3 linked regions of the Homo sapiens genome follow. The protein of the gene in region 3 purifies or fractionates together with the protein of the main gene of each other region. This does not show direct contact. Each region holds a gene or a part of one and is shown on either strand. Other genes may lie near its edges. The genes, in order: MYRF, PTPRF and AP1S1.

Evidence for each region.
Region 1: the proteins of AP1S1 (region 3) and MYRF fractionate together in Homo sapiens (co-fractionation; one large-scale study listed by BioGRID). This does not show direct contact.
Region 2: the proteins of AP1S1 (region 3) and PTPRF fractionate together in Homo sapiens (co-fractionation; one large-scale study listed by BioGRID). This does not show direct contact.

Annotation. Positions count from the first base shown.
Region 1 is NC_000011.10:61,759,124-61,762,770, reverse strand, and holds part of MYRF (myelin regulatory factor isoform 2 precursor), read right to left. Parts: intron 1-3,647.
Region 2 is NC_000001.11:43,617,846-43,621,134, reverse strand, and holds part of PTPRF (receptor-type tyrosine-protein phosphatase F isoform 1 precursor), read right to left. Parts: coding exon 3,224-3,289; intron 2,506-3,223; coding exon 2,386-2,505; intron 2,088-2,385; coding exon 1,933-2,087; intron 1,848-1,932; coding exon 1,562-1,847; intron 1,456-1,561; coding exon 1,277-1,455; intron 1,041-1,276; coding exon 914-1,040; intron 682-913; coding exon 556-681; intron 298-555; coding exon 143-297; intron 39-142; coding exon 1-38. UniProt on the Homo sapiens protein: Possible cell adhesion receptor. It possesses an intrinsic protein tyrosine phosphatase activity (PTPase) and dephosphorylates EPHA2 regulating its activity.
Region 3 is NC_000007.14:101,152,962-101,156,708, reverse strand, and holds the start of AP1S1 (AP-1 complex subunit sigma-1A), read right to left. Parts: upstream 2,234-3,747; 5' UTR 2,195-2,233; coding exon 2,192-2,194; intron 116-2,191; coding exon 1-115. UniProt on the Homo sapiens protein: Subunit of clathrin-associated adaptor protein complex 1 that plays a role in protein sorting in the late-Golgi/trans-Golgi network (TGN) and/or endosomes.

The sequences.
Region 1 (3,647 bases), on a different chromosome or scaffold from region 3:
GGAACGCTGACCCCACACCTTCTCCTGGAAGCCCTGGAGGCCGCGTCGTCTCTTTCCCACGCCGCTCGGCCCCCAGCCCGCCCGTGAACCACACTGGAGATTTCTAACAGACTTTCCAGGTGGACAAGACAAGGGTGGGGGCTTGCCGAAGCTGGGATAGAGCCCCCAAGAACCCAGGACAGGGGCAGGGTCCCATGGGCACACTCTCGGGAGCGCCCCTCCCCACTGCTCCCAAAAGAGCCCCAGAACATCACTGGAGCCCAAGCAGGGGTACCTGCCAGGCAGGAAGCGGAACATGGGCCATATGGCTCGTTCTGATCCTCAAGACCTCTCTGAGAGAAGGGAAGCCGGGCCCGCCAGAGGCTGCCCGAGGCTGCCCAGGGCCCAATAACCCGAAAACAGCACCATGAGCTCACAAACCAGCATCTCTGTCCTTCCCTTCTCAAACCCTTCAACAACTTCCCACTGCTGGGGAGACACCCGGAGCCCTCTGGCAGTCCAAGGCCTGACATGGTCCCCTGCCTGCCCCCGACAGCCTTTTCTCCTTCCCCAGGTCCCCTGCCTCCCCTCCTCTCCGTGGTCAGCCCTTGCCTCCTTTCCATCCTCCATCCCACATCAAGGCCTTCACACATGCCATTCCATGCTGTTCCCTAAGCCTGAGAAAGCCAGGTCCTATTCAGGCTTTAGGTTTTGTCTTAAATGTAAATTCCCCCAAGAGGCCATCTCTGACTCTCCCATTCTGTTTAGCAAGGGATGGGCAGGGGCGTTGTAATTCCTCATCAGTTCTTTACCTTCCCGCCTACACACACCCCGCTGGGCAGGATGAGTGTCTGTCCACCACCCGCCCACCACCCACAGCTCACTCGCCCAGTGGCCACTCTGTGCCCAGCCCTGTGCCATGCACTTTACATGGCTCATATTGAATTCTCATCCCAACCTACAAGGTAGGTGATTTTCTTTTTCTTCATTTTATAGATGAGGAAACTGAGGCTCAGAAAGGATGGGCATGTGCCCATAGCTTACAGGGGCAGGCACTGGGCTATGAGCGCTGCCCTGTTCTGTCTCTCTGGGATATAGTATCCCAGCACACAGCAGGCACCCAGGAAATGTTCACGGAGTGGATGAGCCAAGTGGCCAGTGAGGGACCTCGGCCAGGCCATGCTGTGGCCAGGGCCGGGGCTACCTGGGGCCCCTCCAGGTCCTGCCCCTGCCCTGCTGAGCTGTGTGCCTCAGCTGCTCCTCATTAATTAGGCCCTTTATTACCTGCCTGGAACAGGAACCAGACACTGCCCCTTCCCAGGCAGGCTGCGATCCAGACTATGGGAAGGCAGCCCCCTCCCCTCCGCTCCGCTCTTCTCTCCTCGTCTCCTTAAGGCCACCCCAGCTGGCCAGGAAAGGAACGGAGGGCACCCAAGCCAGGTGCAGGATGAGAGCAGGCAGGGGCCCAGGTGGTCCCTCCACCCAGGACCCCTCCCTTCCGCCCCTCCTTGTGCTTATGTGCCCCCCCCCCCACCAGCTGTGGCCGTTGGCTGAGTCTCGGCCATTGTCCCGGGGAACGGGGGAGGGTGGGGACACGGCACAGTGGGAGGCTTGTGCCCTGCCCACCCCCTCCCCTGCCCCGTCAATGAGGCACTTGTCAATTCATGCCCCAAACATGGCGGAAATCCCGTCAGCCACGTGGCTGTGGGTAGGGTGGGCCGGGGCCCGAGGATGCTGGCCAGGCTTGGTGGATCTGAACCTGGGGTGCAGAGGACACCAGGGCCCAGGCCTATTTCCGACAACCCCAGTTGCTCTGAGTGTCCTCTCAGAGCATCTGAACCTGAAGGATGCCCTAGCTTCAGGCAGCAGCTGAGGGCCAGGGTGGTAGCAGTCAAGGGACAGCCCACCTGGGCATAACCACGATGCCCAGAGAGACCTCCAGAGTCAAAGAGGCCTGGTTTCTAATGTGGACTTCCCACTTGATGGCTATGACCCTCAGCAAGTGACCTGAGCCCTGGCTTCCTTCTCCATCAGATGGAGCACGAATCCCTGCCATGGAGTGAACCTTAAACGAGGTGACCCCCAGGAGGCCATTCCGCAGTCAGGGTGAACCGCCCTGTTTCCATCTCTCTTAGGACTCCCATCTCCTTTCCTGCCTGCACACCTCCGCCCAGGCTGTCCCCTCTCCCCCAGGCCCCTCCGCCTTGCTGCACACGTGCTCCAGAGCCTCCGAGGGACATCCTCACCTTCTCCTAAGTCCCTCTGAGGCATGGTCAGCACTCTGCTGCTATTCTTACACATGCACAGCACAGTCCAGCCTCCGGGCCTCGGCCCCAGCCATCCCTTCCAGTGGGTCAGCCTTCTGCGACTGCCTCCCTGCCTGCCCTGGCAGCCCCTCCCCATCGCCCCAGTCACAGAGGGCCCCCAGTGCTGTGGCTCATCTCCCAACCAGTTTACATGGGGGCAAGGCACAGTGGCCTCACCTCCTTTGGTTTGGGCTTTCTCTCTTTATTAATATGATCTATGGCCAGGCGCGGTGGCTCACACCTGTAATCCCAGCACTTTGGGAGGCCGAGGTGGGCAGATCACAAGGTCAGGAGTTCGAGACCAGCTTGATCAACATGGTGAAACGCTGTCTCTCCTAAAAATACAAAAATTAGCCAGGCATGGTGGCACGTGCCTGTAATCCCAGCTACTCAGGAGGCTGAGGCAGGAGAATCACTTGAAACCGGGAGGCGGAGGTTGCAGTGAGCCGAGATCGTGCCACCACACTCCAGCCTGGGCGACAGAGTGAGACTCTGTCTCAAAAAAAAAAAATCTATAACTGCTAGCTGCCCTGCTTCAGGCTTCAACTTGTGACCAGAGCCGTCTTAGTCAAAATGCCTTCAGGTCAGATGTTTGCTTGTGCAAGCAACCCTTTGCCTCTCCGCATCAAATCTCAGTTAGCTTGGGCCCAGCAGCCACACCTGACAAAGATGGGGCTCTTGAGCCGTTTTTCTATCAGGTTCTTCGATCTGAGTCACAGTAGTCTTTGTTCTCTCCCAGCTTCTTACCAAAAATGCAGAAGAGCCCCCACAGGCTGCCTACAGAGACCCCTCTCTTTTTTTTTTACCTTTCTTTTTGAGACAAAGTTTCACTCTGTTGCCCAGGCTGGAGTGCAGTGGCACAATCTTGGCTCACTGCAACTTCCGCCTCCTGAGTTCAAGTGATTCTCCCACCTCAGCCTCCCAAGGAGCTGGGACTACAGGCGCCTGCCACCACGCCTGGCTAATTGTTGTATTTTTTGTAGAGACGGGATTTCACTATGTTGGCCAGGCTGGTCTCGAACTCCTGACCTCAGGTGATCCACCTGCCTCGGCCTCCCAAAGTGCTGGGATTACAGGCATGAGCCACTGGCCCAGCCGGAGAACCCTCTCTTCTAGGAGACCCAGAATCTTTAGCCACCCTTGGGCTATGGCTACATCCACTCCAAGTCCCCATGAAGCTGCCGCCCTGTCCTCAGGTCAACATAAGGCTGAACTCACAGCCCCAAGATGCTCCAAAGCCAGGTCCAACAGCACCGAGGCCAGCAGCTGCGACCTGTTCCTACTCTCTCCCACAGGGACCAGGGCAGGCAGGCCACCAGGTGCCAGGTAGAGACCCTGCAGCTTGGGGTGGACACAGGTCTC
Region 2 (3,289 bases), on a different chromosome or scaffold from region 3:
TCAGAGTGATGAACACCCCGGTGCGGCCCACGCCAGCACTGCTCAGAAACACAGTTGGGTCAGGAGTCCTGCTTGCCTCATGCAGTGGGTCTGCCAGGCCTTCAGGCCCACCCACCCCAGCCCTCCAGGGGGCCAGTCCCACCTGCAGTGCACCGTGATAGGCCCATCCTGTCCAAACTGCTCCTTGGTCTTATGCACCTGCCCGATGAAGTCAATGAATCCCTCGCCTGTCTTGGGCACGCCCTGCTCTGGCCAGTCTGTGAACTGGAACTGCCGGATTGTCCTTGACTGCCCATCCTGGGAAAGGTGGGTGGGGTACATGATTAGAATTCGTGCCTTAGGCAGCCACCCCTCTGGACTAGACCAGGGTAGTACCATGATACAGGCATGCATCTGTGTCACTGCACCCGAGGCCACAGGGGGAGATGTGCTCACACCCTAATACCCACCCACCGCCTCAGATTTCTGAAGCTTGAGCTAAGGTACCATGCAGGCAGCCATCCACCCAGCGTGTGGACAGGCAGCGTTATGGACACACTCAATGCACTCACTCACCCGGGCATCCGTGACCTTGAACTCACGCAGGATATACTGGGGCATGTTGTACTCAGCCATCGGGTCAACAACAAAGTACTGGTAGCGAGCAGAGCGCTCTGCTGGCCAGTACTGGTGGCATTTCTCCTGTGGACAGAGGGTCGGGCCCCCATAATCAGGTGAGAAGGAATAGGGGAGGGGTGCCAGGCTTCACAGGATTCTGGGACAGATGCCTCAGGTAGTAATAACGGGCGCCTGAGGCCATGCTGACAAGCAGCTGGGGTGTCAAAGGAGACAGTAACATAGGCGGCAGCTCCCCCAAGGGTGGCTGGTGTTCTCCCAGGTATGACAGGGGCCCTGGGGGAAAGGGTGGGCTCACCCTGCCCATCTCCCGAAGCTTGGTCAGCATGACGATGATGGTGGAATTGTGCTCCCATAGCATGCGCCAGAAGTCCTCGGTGCTCTCTGCCAGAGGCCCCTGTGTAGCTATGTAGGCCTTCTGCTGTCTGGGGTGGACATAAGACTGGACATGCTGGAGGTGCTGCTGCCCCTAGAGTCTCCCCTTAGGCTGCCTAGCCCCTTGGGGCCCTGCTCAGATCACCCCTCCTCCAGGAAGTCCTCACTGCTCTACCCAGCCCTCTCTGGTCTTCTAGGCTGGCCCTACTCTGCTGCCCACCCCCACCAGCCAGGCACAGGCCTAGGCCCCTGTAGGGCATGGTGGGGCAGTGACATGCATGCTGACCTATAACCATCCAGGAAGCTGGCATTGATGTAGTCAGAGCCCTCCACACCACGGATGGGCTGCAGACACACACGGGTCAATTCGTAGGGCATGATGTTCACCAGCCGGTTCTTGAACTTGTTGCAGGGCAGGTTGGCGCTGATGAAGCGGGACGTGTGGGCCTTGGAGCTGGCCAGCAACTATTGAGAGGCAGGGATTGGTCAGGCCAGGCTTCCTGTGGGGGTGGGGGTCATCTGCATGACCCAGTCTAGGCCCTGGAGCCAAGCAGGCCCACCCGAGCCCCACCTTGAACTCGAGCTCCATGGCGGTCACACTCTCCCCTGGAGGCACTTGGCCCAGCTTCTGGATGTGGGCATACAGGTTGCGGGCAGGCACCTCTGTGTGGCCGCACGTGGCAGCCTCCAGCAGCGCCTCATGGATGAACACGTACTGGTCCTCCGTCTGCACCATGTAGTTCCTCTGTGATCGCATGCAGGTCACGTGGCCATAGATGTCCACCGTCTTCTCGTGCTTCATCCGCTCCAACATGGCATCAATCACGATGAAGCAGCCGGTGCGGCCCACGCCCGCGCTGCAGGACACGGGCTCAGCTTGAGGCACAGGCGCCCCCACCTCCCACCCCACCCACCCCTCTGGGTGGCACTGTACCCTCTCACCTGCAGTGCACCACCATGGGCCCTGCGTCTAGGGGGTTGCAGGCCTTGACCCGTCGTAGGAAGGCCAGGATGGGAGTTGGGTACTCAGGAACTCCATGGTCTGGCCAGGCCATGAACTGAAACTGACGCAGCTCGCGCTTCTCACTGGAGCCACTCTGGGGGACAAAGTGGGGACATACTGGCGACTAGGAGCCTACCTGCCATAGACTCAGGACTGAATGACCTGATGCTGAGGCCATACCCGCCACTTCCCCATGGGACTCAGAAGCCACACAGAGTAGCCTGAAGCTCCTAGCACTGTTCCCATAACATGGATCATCACATCACTCACACACCTGAGCCTCCGACCCTCCAACACCCAGGCTCCAGCTTCCCCCCGACCCAGCACACCACACCCAGGCCACTGTCCTTACAGTGTCTGGGTAAGAGATATGCACTGGGGAAAGGCTATACCTTGTGGAGTGCGAAGGTGCGCACAGTGTATGTGGCCAGCTCCACTGTGTCCAACAGGGTCACCTGAATAAGGCCACAGGTCTCGGTGCCACGGGCTGGCCAGTACTGATCACATTTTACCTGCAGGAGGATGAGCAGGGCAGGCTGAAGGAAGCCCACAGGCTCAGACGGGCAGAAGCAGGGTGGAGGCTGGTCAACTCCCTGGCTGTAGCCTTTCTGGCTACAAAGCCCCCCAGCCCTGAGCTCTCAGATCCATTGCCCCCTGTCCTCCACAAGCCACATCAGGTCCTCAAGCTATGTCACCGCCCTGCCCTAGCTAGTGGAATAAGGGTCATAATTGAAAATTATTTATTCAACGCCAGATCGCACCAGGCACATTTTCTGCCAAATTTACCCATAACGTTTATGTGCCATTTTCAAGCTCTGTAAATTTTACGTTCCAGTCAATGCTTTGCAGTCCAAAAACAGATAACAGCAGCTCTTTCCACTAATTAACTTAGGAGATGTGTTAATGCCCCAGGAACACTCCAGCATCTGGGGAACACATGAATACCCCGGGAACACGCCAGCAACTGGGGAACACATTAACATTCTCCGAAAATGACAGCATTTGGTGAAACATATTAACATCTTAAGGAACCCACTAGCATGTGGGGAACATGCTGTATCCCAGAAACACCCAGTATTTGGGGAGCATAATACCCCCAGTAACAATAGCATCTGGGGATCACTTGAGCGACTTCCTCCACAGAAGAAAGCGGCACAGAAGAAGGTGCCCTGTATCACCTTGTGGCTGGGCATTTCCCACCCGCCTCCTGGCAGGGCCCTGCAGCCTCACCCGGGACTTCTCCTCCAGCCGTGTCATCATGACCACAGTGGCCGTGCGCTGTTCCCACACCATCCT
Region 3 (3,747 bases):
GGACAACCTGCATGAGCTCGCGCACCATCTTCTTCCGTTCCTTGTCCGAAGTGGCCAGGTACCATTTTTGCAGCCGCAGTTTTCCCTGCCGGCTGAATAATAGCATGAACCGCATCTGTGGGGGATGGGAGGGCAGAACCGAGGGTAACCACACATTCCCCAAACTTATCTCCAGCTAATTCTTCTCTACTTTCTTCCAACATCCAGCCCCTTGCTCTCAAGGCTGGGTGTTTCCACCAGCAGGGGGAAGTCAGAGCTTCTGAGTCTGTCAGCTGGGTTCAAATCCTGGCTCTACTAGTTATGCAAGGCCTTGGCCCAATTACTACTGTAAGTCTCTGGGCCTCAGTTTCCTTATGTGTAAAATGGACATTGTACCTGCCTTGCACAGTTGTTAGGTGAGACTAAATGATTTGATATATGCAAGTCCCTAGCACAGGCAGGCAGTATAACATGTTAGCTATTATTATTATTATTTTTGAGACAGAGTCTCTCTCTGTCGCCCAGGCTGGAGTGCAGTGGCGCAATCACTGTTCAGTGCAATCTCCGCCTCCCAAGTTCCAGCGATTCTCCTGCCTCAGCCTCCTGAGTAGCTGGGATTACAGTCACGTGCCATCACGCCCGGCTAATATTTGTATTTTTAGTAGAGATGTGGTTTCACCATGTTGGCCAGGCCCTGGTCTCGAACTCCCGACCTCAGGTGATCCACCCACCTAGGCCTCCCAAAGTGCTGGCATTAAGGCATGAGCCACTGCGCCCGGCCGTTAGTTATTACTATTATTACCATGATTCCCTGACCTCTTGCTTTCTGGTCTGCTTTCTAAAGGTAAGTAAAATGCCTAGCACAGTGACAAGACGACAGTAACCGACGCCAAAGAAATGCCTGTTCTCTTCCACCCTCTCTCTATCCATCACCATGCTGAAATCTGGTATTTTGTCCCTGGAGAAGCTACCTCAATTTTCCACCCCATCATAGCCATAAGATCTTAATGATCTCCCAAACATATCATCCTCCAGTGCCAGGCCTATGCCCAGGGGTATCCTCCTCTGTAGTATGTATCTCCAACACCACACAGGGTATGCAGATGCCCAAATCCTATCTTCCTCTCTGCAGGCACCCAGGCATTTGGTCTTCGACATTTCTCTTTAACTTTTCTTCCTTTTAGGGTGCCTCCTGCTAAGCGCCCACTCCTCCCCAGACACCAGGTGACCAATTTCCCTCAGTTAGGGCCCCGCCACCCAGGGGGTTCCCCTAAAAGAATGTCTGCAGAACAGACAGCAAGCTGGGTCAAGTGGGATGGAAGACAGAACCCTCACTGCCCAGTGTACCCCAGCTTCCCAGTTCCGGGGGGTCTGGGCCACATCCTGGAGTCTTCTCCTTACCCCAGTAGCTCTTCTATTCATGGACATGCCCAGGCTTGGAATCCCTGGGTGTGTGGCACTGTACTAGCTTAGTAAGTGAAAAATCAGAATTCAGGAGAACTGATTTTTTTGGTGGAGGGGAAAAGAGGGGCGCTGGGGAGCCTCGTGCGGCGCTCAAATAGGGGGGTGGGGAGCAAGCAGGAAGACGGAAGGCCTGGATTCCGGAAAGAGAATGGGAAGGGGGGCAGAGAGCCCCGGAGCCCGGGATCCCAAAGCCTGGGTCCCTCGGAGAAAAACCACGAGTCCACTTCGCTTCCCTACCTGGGCCCAGCCTCTAGGCAAGCACGGCCACGAACGCAGTAGGGCGCTCCCTTTTCCGACCCGGAAACTCCCCTCCCACACCCCTCTCCCCACCCGGGTCCCCGCTCCCGCCTGTGCAGCCCGGGAAGGGGGTCTCGGTGACTGGTGACCCCCGCTCCCTCCCTCAGCAAAGAGACTCCCGCAACCCTCTGCTTCGGGCGGCTTCCCTGCAGCGGGGATCGAGGGACCCCAGGGGCCAAGACCAGAGCGCCCCTCCCGGCTCGGGACGGCCCCGCCGCCCCTTCGTCAGCCCCCGCTCGCCCTGCAAATGCGCCCCCTCCCCGCCCCTCTCCCGAATGCCACCTCCCCCTCTTCCTCCCGAGCCCGGCTCGCCCACCCGCCGAGGCAAGGGAGGCCTCTGAGGACCAGAGGGAAGACAGGGCGGTTCACCCCGAGGGCGGCCCCCGAGGACCCCCGCAGGTGCAGCCCACGCCCCTCGCTTCCCCCTCCCCTCCCTCTTCGCACAGCCTACCATCCTGCAGCCTCCGGCTCGGCGCGTCCCACTTCGGCCACCGTAGGCGCCAGTCCCACTCCCTTTCTTATCCTTTCTCCTGCTGCCCTCCCTCTCGCCCGAAGCCCCGCCCCGTCCCGCCCAGGCTCTGACTCCCGGCGCGCCACGCACTGCGCAGGCGCCGACGCCGCGGGGAGCGCGGGCGGGGCTGGAGGCGGAGAAGCGGAAACCATGGCAACCAGGTCCTTGACTGCAGCTTCTAGGAGCCCGGTCGTCATGGTAACGCGGCTGTCCTGTGGGCTGGTTGGAGGATGGGGGAGGAGGACAATAAGGTCCTCGCGCTTTGGAGCCTTGTGGGGCAAAAAGGCGGGAAAAGGGGTGAGAGGTGAATGGGACGATCATTGGAGTTCGAAGCAGCAGGCAGGACTCCTGGAAGGGGAGTGGGCCGTGAAAAGGGAGCAGGGTGGGAATTAAGTGTAGGGGAGGAGGAGTGACCTGGAAAACAGAAAGACAAAGGGTCATGAGAAAAGTATAGAACCCAAGCTGAATATCTATTGAAAGCGTGATAGATACACCCCTCTAGTTTTTTTCTTTTTAGAGACAGGGTCTGGCCGCGTCACCCAGGTTGGAGTGCAGTGGTGGGATCGTGACTCTCTGCAGCCTTGAACTCCTGGCCTCAAGCGATCCTCCCGCCTCAGCCTCCTGAGTAGCTGGGACTACAGACGCACACCGTCATGCCCAGCTAATTTTTAATTTTTTTTTAGTAGAGACGGGGGTCTTACTATGTTGCCCAGGCTGGTCTCGAACTCTTGGGTTCAAGAGACCCTCCCGCCTCGGTTTCCCAAACTGCTGGGATTACAGGCGTGAGCCACCGCGCCTGGCTTCTGATTTTACAGTAAGAGAAATGTGTAGAAAAAGAATAAAAGAGAAAAGGAGAGGCTGCTATAAAAGGCATGTAAGGAGAAGGGGGAGGAACGTGAACTGAGGCAAAAGGGGAAGAAATAAAGAGCGTCTTAAAAGGTTAACTTGGGTCAAAACTCAAAAAGGGACAGATGTCACCCAAATCTCAGTGTGAAGATGAGGTGGATGTACGTTGTAATATGGGCTTTTAAACTGAATGTGTGTGTGTGTCTACATGTTACTGGAAAAAGGGGTCCCGATCCAGACCCCAAGAGAGAATTCTTGGATCTCATGCAGGAAGGAACCCAAAGCAAGTCGTAGAGTGCGATGAGAAGAGAGAGTTTATTGAAAGCTACACCCTTACGGAGTAGGGCGTCCTCAGAAAGCAAACAGAGGAACACACTGTCTTAAGTTTTTCTTTTCTTTCTTTCTTTTTTTTTTTCTTCTTTTTTTGAGACAGGGTCTTACTCTGTTGCCCAGGCTGGAGTGTAGTAGCATGATCATAGTTCACTGCAGCCTCCACCTCCTGAGCTCAAGCGATCCTCCCACTTCAGTCTCCCAAGTAGCTAGGACTACAGGCATGCACCACCACAGCCAGCTAATAGTTGTATGTTTTGTAGACACAGGGTATTGTCATGCTACCCAAGCTGGTCTGGGACTCCTGGACTCAAGGTATC